Regions from separate parts of the Homo sapiens genome. Here region 1 is linked to region 2. The links come from fine-mapping of genetic effects on gene expression. A gene starts in region 2. The other region holds a variant in brackets. All regions are shown on one strand. Distances are from middle to middle.

Evidence for each region. PIP is the estimated chance that this variant, and not a neighbour inherited with it, causes the effect.
Region 1: its variant is the best candidate, but not a certain one, in a credible set for the expression of MEAF6 in spleen (GTEx, PIP 0.56).

The regions. Positions count from the first base shown.
Region 1 is chr1:37,627,242-37,631,548 of GRCh38, reverse strand. It overlaps RSPO1 (R-spondin 1), which reads left to right. Exons shown (of 7, transcript NM_001242908.2): 3 at 1,600-1,981. The coding sequence starts at 1,888. Among named protein-coding and RNA genes, the nearest start is that of RSPO1, 5.5 kb to the left of the region's middle. RefSeq lists enhancers at 375-888, 790-959. The variant T/C (reference allele first, on the strand shown) is at 2,185.
Region 2 is chr1:37,512,673-37,517,055 of GRCh38, reverse strand. It overlaps MEAF6 (MYST/Esa1 associated factor 6), which reads left to right and starts at 2,290. Exons shown (of 7, transcript NM_001270875.3): 1 at 2,290-2,399; 2 at 3,518-3,633. The coding sequence starts at 2,310. RefSeq lists a silencer at 2,106-2,705.

The DNA of each region.
Region 1 (4,307 bases), 110 kb before region 2:
ACTATCATGCTGTACAGCCAGCCTCTGAGACTACAGACTTGGGCCAGAAGACCCCAGTTTGATAAACTCAACTGGACATCTATAATCTGTGGGTGAGAGAATTGTGTAGTGGGGGCTGGGGAGGATAGAAAGGCTTTGGTAAATCAGGCAGGGAGTACTGGAGGGGCGTGCAGGGGTTGGCAGCTGACGGGCATTTGGGGGTAGCTGGGGGCATCTCCTCTGGCTCAGGCCACAGCACCAGGTGGGATCCATCAGCCTCATGTAAACACTTCTCACAGGCAGCTTAACCACTTGAGTGTGTCTGGCCTTCAAAGCCAGCGGGAGAGGCCAAGGAGGGAGGTACTGAACTCCCTTAGGGGATAATGATTTATCTCCCGTGCAGGTGGGCTCTGCTGGGGCCTCCCTGACAGGCGAGGGGGTGGACTGGCACTGAAGAGCCTAGAGGGGAAAGGATTAGGACAGGGGGTGGGAGGGGCACCTCCACTCCAGCACCTCAGATTTCTCATTCCTGAGCCTGAACTCTCTGACTCTCAGCTAGCCTGTGACATAGTCATGCTTGTCCCCATTTTATAGATGTGAAACAGGTTCAGTGAGGCTACATGACTTGTTCGAAGGCATCTAGCCACTGGAGGGGAAGGTGATGGCTCCCTGGCATCTACAGAGACTCTGTGCTATTGGCCTGCATGCTCTGTTGTGGTGTGGGTGTGTGTGGGGGAGTGTGGGGTGTGCGTGGGCAGGCCGCTGCTGTGGAAGAACCTTGAGAGCATCAGAGCATGTGTGTGATCCCGTGACGGGGAAGCAGGGTTTTCATTCTCACTCCCAGGTTGGGCTCAGATGTCCAACTTCCCAGACACATCTGATCAGGGGAGGGACCGGCTCCCCTGCCCCCATCACCCCAGCCGGCCAGCGGGTCCAGAGACCTGGCTCTCGCTGGGCTGGGGGATTATCCCCATTCTCTGTGTCTCTGGCCAGGGCGGGCATTGCTGCCTCTTTTATCCTCTCACAAAGGCCAGGCCCGCCGGGCCTGCTGTGTCAGAGTTTCTGTGGCCGGGGGAAGCCTTACTTCCTTTTCTCCCGCCAAGCCCAGAGGGCCAGGCAGGGTCTGCCAGCTTGCCGGGGGCCACTGCTCTAACTCCAGGACAGGTGAAAGGCACATGGGTGACTCAGCCCCGGGAAGAAAAGGCTGAGGGGTCACTCATGCAAGGACAGAGAGAGAGAGAGAGCTCCTCTTCAAGAGACAGGATACTACTGCAGCATGAGGTCTGTAGGGTAGACTTAAGGAAGGACTTCCAGTTAGAGCTGGACAACATGAAGCAGGGGTGGGACCAGCTGGCTCCCGTTATTGAGAAATCATCAGTGATCCACAAGTTTGGTTTGAATGTCTGCCATATTCTGGCTACACAGGTTGCCGGCTCCGGTCCCAGGTTAGGGAATTCTGTAAGACAGGAAAAGGAGCAGATTTCTTCTAGAAAGGTGCTAGGTAGGTAACTTGTAATGTCCAAACATTTTGAGCTCCCAGTCTTCTGGGTAGGGCAGGAGGCATAAGTGGGAGTGTTCATGGTACTACAGAATTAACCCTTCTTTCTCCTTCCCTGACAGGTTGGTTTTTGGAGTAGTCCCTGCTGACGTGACAAAAAGATCTCTCATATGATATTCCGAGGTATCTTTGAGGAAGTCTCTCTTTGAGGACCTCCCTTTGAGCTGATGGAGAACTGGGCTCCCCACACCCTCTCTGTCCCCAGCTGAGATTATGGTGGATTTGGGCTACGGCCCAGGCCTGGGCCTCCTGCTGCTGACCCAGCCCCAGAGGTGTTAGCAAGAGCCGTGTGCTATCCACCCTCCCCGAGACCACCCCTCCGACCAGGGGCCTGGAGCTGGCGCGTGACTATGCGGCTTGGGCTGTGTGTGGTGGCCCTGGTTCTGAGCTGGACGCACCTCACCATCAGCAGCCGGGGGATCAAGGGGAAAAGGCAGAGGCGGAGTGAGTAATGGAGCATGGTGGGCCACAGCTGGCCTTGGGAATGGGAGGGGGCCACCCAGGAACTAGGGGTCTTCAGGAGTTTTATTCCATGATGACCCTTGCAGAGTTCCACTCTATCTATTATAGCTTTGTAGATCACTCAGTAGATGATCCTGTTTGTGGATTATTCAATTGGTGGATTAATTTGCTGAGATTACCCACTC[T/C]GTAGATGACTCACTTTGTCTGTTTTCCCCTTTGTAGACTCTGCTTTCTAGATTAACCCCTCTCTTGTGAGGATCCAGTTTGTGGATTATGCCTTTGTGGATTATGTGCTTTGACATAACACCAGCTTTGTGTGGTATCCATGGAGATGCTTCCCCAATCCCCCTGCCCTGGGGCTCCTTTTTTGGCTAAAGTGCAGCCATCAACCCTTTTGGGTTAGGAGCTCTGCACAACTTAGCACTGGGTAACAGGGCTTCCCCTGCCCAGATCATAGGGCAGGAACAGTGGAGTAGGGAGGGTCAGGAGACTGTCCACTGCTGTGGCTTTTAAACCATGCCTAGTGGGATTCAGGGAGCTACAGTGGCATCGAAGGGGAGACAAGCAGGCAGGGGTCTGGCCCGACCACGCTTCAAACCAGAGCAGTCTCACTTTTCCCTGCTTTTGGTAATGAGCATCCACATAAGAAGTCGTTGGAAGAGAGGGTTCTCATAGCTTAAAAAGAAAACCAAAATCCTATCATTGTACAGATGCTAAGAAAGGGGAAGAAACAGGTCTAAGGAGATACAGTTGATGTTGGAACCCAGGTCTCCCAATGCCTGTGGGCCCAGTCTTCTTGAAAGCCGAATTTGATGGAGGTCAAGGGTAATCTGTCCCTAGCCCCTTGATAGGCACTCCTCAGCCTCTGCTTAAGGTCTCCAGTGATGGGGCCCCAGTGCTGTAGGGGTGGCCACTGTGTGTGAGGGGCCCACACGAGGGAGATGGTGGGGGACTCCAGAGTCCCAAGTCCTCATCTGTCTTTTGACATCCCGCATGAGAAGATGCCACACCCACAGGCAGGAGATCTTCCTGAAGTCTAGCCCAGCTCCCTCTTGCTTCATGTTTCCCTGCAGACGGAGGCCCCCCAGTGAAGGCTGAAAAGCAGTGGGGTTTTGCTGGGGCTCCACGGGAGCAGCCAAGGCCAGGACTCAGCCCAGGGAGAGAAGCTCAGAGAATTGGTGAAGCTGAAAATCCCTGGCTTAACAAACAATTAGAGACGGTTAGGTTTAATCAGCAGCAAGGCCTTGATTTTCCTCCCTTCTCATCTGTTGTGGCCAGTATTTTGGACTCCATGGGCCAGATGCGGTTTAGCGGTTTATAATCGGTCTCCTCTATTTCCGAAATGAGAGAGAGAGAGAGACAGAGAGAGAGAGAGAATGGGAGGAACCATTCACATTCATGCAATGTGTACATGTGCTTAACGCTGACCCTCACCCATGCAGAGCCTCATGCCTGGCTAAACCAGAGGTCACAGGACCTGAGTTCAAGTCTGTTGTATTAAAAAGGAAAGAAGTACTAGACTTGGCATCAGAAAGGGCCTGGTCCTAGCGATGGCGAATCTCCTGCACCAATTTTGACGTGCTTGCTCGCTTTTCATATGGCCACATCTAACAGCCGTGGCAGCACATGAGCCAGTTTTCATTACCAAGTGATGTGAGTAACAGACATCCTTGATGGTAAGAGGCAAGGGTGGGGAGAGGTGTGGAGACAGGCTCAGGGGTGCAGGGAGGGATGAAGGTTGTGCTGTTTGTCAATACTTGTTATGTAATAGCCATAGTCATCGCAATCAGGAAGCTGAAATGCAATGTATAGGAGGATAGTAAGGCTTACATGAGATAATAGGTATATATATATAGTTTTGTTTTGTTTTGTTTTGTTTTGTTTTGTTTTGTTTTGTTTTGTGATGGAGTCTTGCTCTGTCACCCAGGCTGGAGTGCTGTGTCACGATCTTGGCTTACTGCAACCTCCGCCTCCCGGGTTCAAGTGATTCTCCTGCCTCAGCCTCCCAAGTAGCTGGGATTACAGGCATGTGTCACCATGCCTGGCTAATTTTTGTATTTTTAGTAGAGACAAAGTTTTGTCATGTTGGCCAGGCTGGTCTTGAACTCTTGACCTCAGGTGATCCACCCACCTCAATAGATATATATTTTTAACACCTTTGTAAAACATCAAGTTCTGTGTAGACTCTGGGTGCAAATCATTGTTATATAAACAATGTGTAGACCATTTTGCCTTACTGATTCTGGGGGAGTAGGGAAGGGAAGAAGGAAGACCAAGACAGCTGTGTGTGCCTGGCCTCTCGATAAGA
Region 2 (4,383 bases):
TGTTAGTCAGGCTGGTCTCCAACTCCTGACCTCAGGTGATCCACCTGTCTTGGCCTCCCAAAATGCTGGGATTATAGGCGTGAGCCACCTCGCCCAGCCAGCTTTTTGTTTTGTTTTGTTTTGTTTTTGAGACAGAGTCTCACTCTCTCACCCAGGCTGGAGTGCAGTGGCGATCTCGGCTCACTGTATCCTCTGCCTCCCCGGTTCAAGCGATTCTCCTGCCTCAGCCTCCTGAGTAGACGGGATTATAGGCGCACACCACCACACCTGGCTAATTTTTTGTATTTTTAGTAGAGATGGGGTTTCACCATGTTGGTCAGGCTGGTCTTGAACTCCTGACCTCGTGATCCGCCCGCCTCGGCCTCCCAAAGTGGTGGGATTTAGCCACCGCACCCAGTGGCTTAAAAGTTTTTTTACTTGTTTGTTTTTTGGTTTACACTAGGAATATAGAGGTACTTCCTCACCTTGAAAAACAGCATCTACAAAACTCCCACAACTAATGTCATACTTAATGGTGAGAGACTGAATGCATTCGCCACCCCCCCTTTTTTTTTTTGAGACGGAGTCTCGCTCTTGCCCAGGCTGGAGTGCAGTGGCGGGATCTTGGCTCACTGCAAGCTCCGCCTCCCGGGTTCACGCCATTCTCCTGCCTCAGCCTTCCGAGTAGCTGCGACTACAGGCGCCCACCACCACGCCCGGCTAATTTTTTTTGTATTTTTTAATAAAGACGAGGTTTCACTGTGTTAGCCAGGATGGTCTTGATCTCCCGACCTTGTGATTCACCCGCCTCGGCCTCCCAAAGTGCTGGGATTACAGGCGTGAGCCACCGCGCCCGGCCTGCATTCCCCTTAAAACAGGGAACAAGGCAAGGATGTCTAATGTTATCACTTTTATTTAACAGACTACTGGAAATCTGCACAATAAGGAAGAAAAAGAAAAAGCACTCAGCTTAGAAAAAAAAAAACTCCCTATTTATTTGCAGATGAAATTATTATCTATGTAAAAATTCCAAGGAATCTATACAACCCCCCCTAAAATTAGTAAGGGAGTTCAGCAAGATGGCAGGTTACAAGATCCGCACACGAAACCAGTTATTCAGAATGCAGCACAGAGGGACAAAAAGATGGAAAATATAGACGGTAGGTTAAAAAGCTTCTTATGTTCGAGTTCCAGAAGGAGAGAGAAATGAGACAGGCATCTGAAGAAAAATGACTGCGATTTCCCAAAACTGGTGGAAGATACCAACCCACATATTATAGAAATCCAAAGACTTCCAAGCAAGAAACAAAACAAAAGGAAGAAAAAATATCCCACTTAGACTTATGATAGCGAAACTGCAGAACAGTGAAAGATGGAGAGCTGAGGACGGAGAAATCCACAGGGGCCAAGTGAAAACAACGTTTACACCTTGGACTTAACGATAAAAGCGAACTCGTACTTGCACAGTCATTGGCGCCTGCCAAACCCCTTACACATATTAGGTGATTTACTCCTCACAGCAAATGTATTAGGTAGATTCTATTACTGCTTGTATTTTACAGATGAGGGAGTTGAGATTTGGTTATTTGCCCAAAGGAGCACACTTTATCGATGTAGCGATAGGATTTTGAACAAGGTAGTTCTCGCTCCAGTTTTGTGCCCTTAACCACTACACATACTTGTTTCTCCAAAGGGCACTGGGAAAATGGGAAGCCACTGAAAGACTTTAAACCGGGGAGTGATAACATTTGTTTCTGGAAGATCCTGGCACCACTGTGGATAGTGGATTAAGTGGGGCTAAAGGTGGAAATAAGCCGCTGGAATAATGTAGCCCCAAACAGGGAGGGCCTGAATGAACTAGTGAGGTGGCAGAAGGCGCAGGCACAAGCAAATGGATTCGCGAGCTCTTCCGGAGTCGAGTCCATAGAGCTTGACCTGGGATCGCGTTTTACTCCAGGTGCAGAGTGAGGAAAACCGCGTTTCTGACGCAGGCAATTCGGTGGATAGTGAAAGTCATTCACTGAAGTGGACTGAAGCGGGGCGCACAGGAGACTCGGAGGCCTGAGGACGAGCTAGGCTTTGGACGCGGTGGATTTGTGGCGTCTGTAAAGCCGGCGGCCAGCCGAGGGGCAGGAAACGGCAGAAAGCAGAAGCCGCATCTCTAGAGCTCTCCGAGAAGGACCTTCGAGAGCCCCGGCCTTAGCGAAGCTCGGCACGGCGCTGCACGCGTCTCCGGAAGCCGCGCGCGCAGGCGCAGAGCGGGGGGGCGCCCCCTGGCGGCGCAGGGACCGCCCCCAACCTCGCGCCGCCGCCGCCCGCCTCAGCCCAACATGGCGATGCACAACAAGGCGGCGCCGCCGCAGATCCCGGACACCCGGCGGGAGCTGGCGGAGCTCGTGAAGCGGAAGCAGGAGCTGGCGGTGAGGGGCTAGGACAGGGGTTGCACGGCATGGGGCTCCGCGCCCGCCCCGCCTCCAGGCCCCAAGCCCGGCCGCGCTAGGCCGTTTGTTACTCCGGGGGCGCGGCGCGGCGGGCCGGGTGCTCGGCGGCCTGAGGCCGGGTGCGCATTCTGCGGCCCGCCGGCGGTTCAGCTTCCCGGCTGTGCGAATCCGGAGCCGGGAGAGAGCCGGGAGCGCGGGAGGGGGAGGGGAAGCGGCAGCCGCAGGAGGGGGCGTGGAGGGAGGACGGTGCCGGGGCCCGGGGAGAGGGCGCTAGGAAGGGCGAGCGTCAGTGAGCCGCGGGGGTGGGCGAGGCGGGCTAGTCCGTGATCTTTGCGGGGAGGGGGTGGGGAAGGAGGCTAGTGTGGGAGGGGGACCCAGTCACCCCGTCTGGACTTTGGAGGCTGGTGGGGAGCGTGTTCTTTTTGGTACTGGGAGTAGATCCGTTGAATGGAGGTTTTTGATAGACAGGGTTGTGATGTGTTTGGGAACATCTAGAAGGTGACAGGCGAGGGAGAAGAACACATTCCGGAGAATTCAGAATTGTGACAGGCACCCAAGGCCCAATGCACTCTGGTGGCTAAGCTCTTCCTGCCCCCGCGTCTCGGCTTGGGCACCCGGGAGGCCCCTCTCACCTGAAGCTGCCCTTCTAGGTTTCCATAGCAACTGGCAGCCCGGTGTCGGCGGCCTCTCTTGAGCCTGCGGGGAGGGGAGCGAGTTGACGCTGAAAGGCTGCTCACCTTTCCCTCTCCTGGTAGCGATACCTTTTGTGCGTGGGAGTGGACATCGCCCAAGTTCTGCGTTAGCCTGGGCTCTTGACTCATGGTTTCCGTGAATCCTCTAAAGTATATGCAAAATTTCGCGTGTGTGTGTATTTTTCTGGAGACATGCTTTATACATTCAGGGGTCCATCACCCCCAAAGGTCTAGACTGTCTTAGTCCTAAACGGCTCCTCCTCCCCGTATCTTCCATCTCTCCACAGGGTGGTTTAGTGTGGGCAAGCTTGCGTTTACGAGTCTAATATCAGGATTTCATTTTGGCCAGACTTAAGTGTTTGCATTTAAAAGGTATCATTCATGTCCTTGTTTTTCATCTCTCAGGAAACATTGGCAAATTTGGAGCGACAGATCTATGCTTTTGAGGGAAGCTACCTGGAAGACACTCAGATGTATGGCAATATTATTCGTGGCTGGGATCGGTATCTGACCAACCAAAAGTGAGTGTCGAAAGCCTGTAGTGTTCCTATTGTGCCCTAGTAACGTTTGTTTTTAGGACTGTATGCTCTTAGTGGCAACTTTGCTGGAGGCAGTAGTAAAGTAGTGGTGTGATCTGGACTTGAACTCTTGGACTCTGGCTCAGGCACTGCCTCACCGAATAATCTTAGACAAGGCTCACATCTGTAAAATAGCGAAAGTTGGGCCTATGGCACAGGGTTGTGTGAGGCTTAAATACAGTATCTTTATACAATAGCATTCTATTAAATTTTTTACACATTTTAATCAGTCATGAGTTCTACCCTCACAGTATTTTTCTTTTCTTTTTTTCTTTTTCCTCCTGAGTAGCTGGGATTACAGGTGCGTGCCACCATGCCTGGCTAATTTTTTTATTTTTAGTAGAGACGAGGTTTCTCCATGTTGGCCTGGCTGGTCTCGAACTCCTGACCTCAGGTGATCTGCTGCCTTGGCCTCCCAAAGTGTTGGGATTACAGGTGTGAGCCACCACGCCTGGCCACTTTTCTTTTTTCTAAGAGACAGGGTCTCACGCTGTTGTCCAGGCTGGAGTGCAGTAGCACGAACTTAGCTCACTGCAGCCTCAGACTCCTGGGCTGAAGTGATCCTCCCACCTCAGCCTCCCAATTAGCTGGGACTACAGGCACACCATACTGTACCTGACTAATTAAAAACTTTTTTTTGTAGAAGTGGGATCTCACTTTGTTGCTCAGGCAGGCCTGGAACTCCTGGTTTCA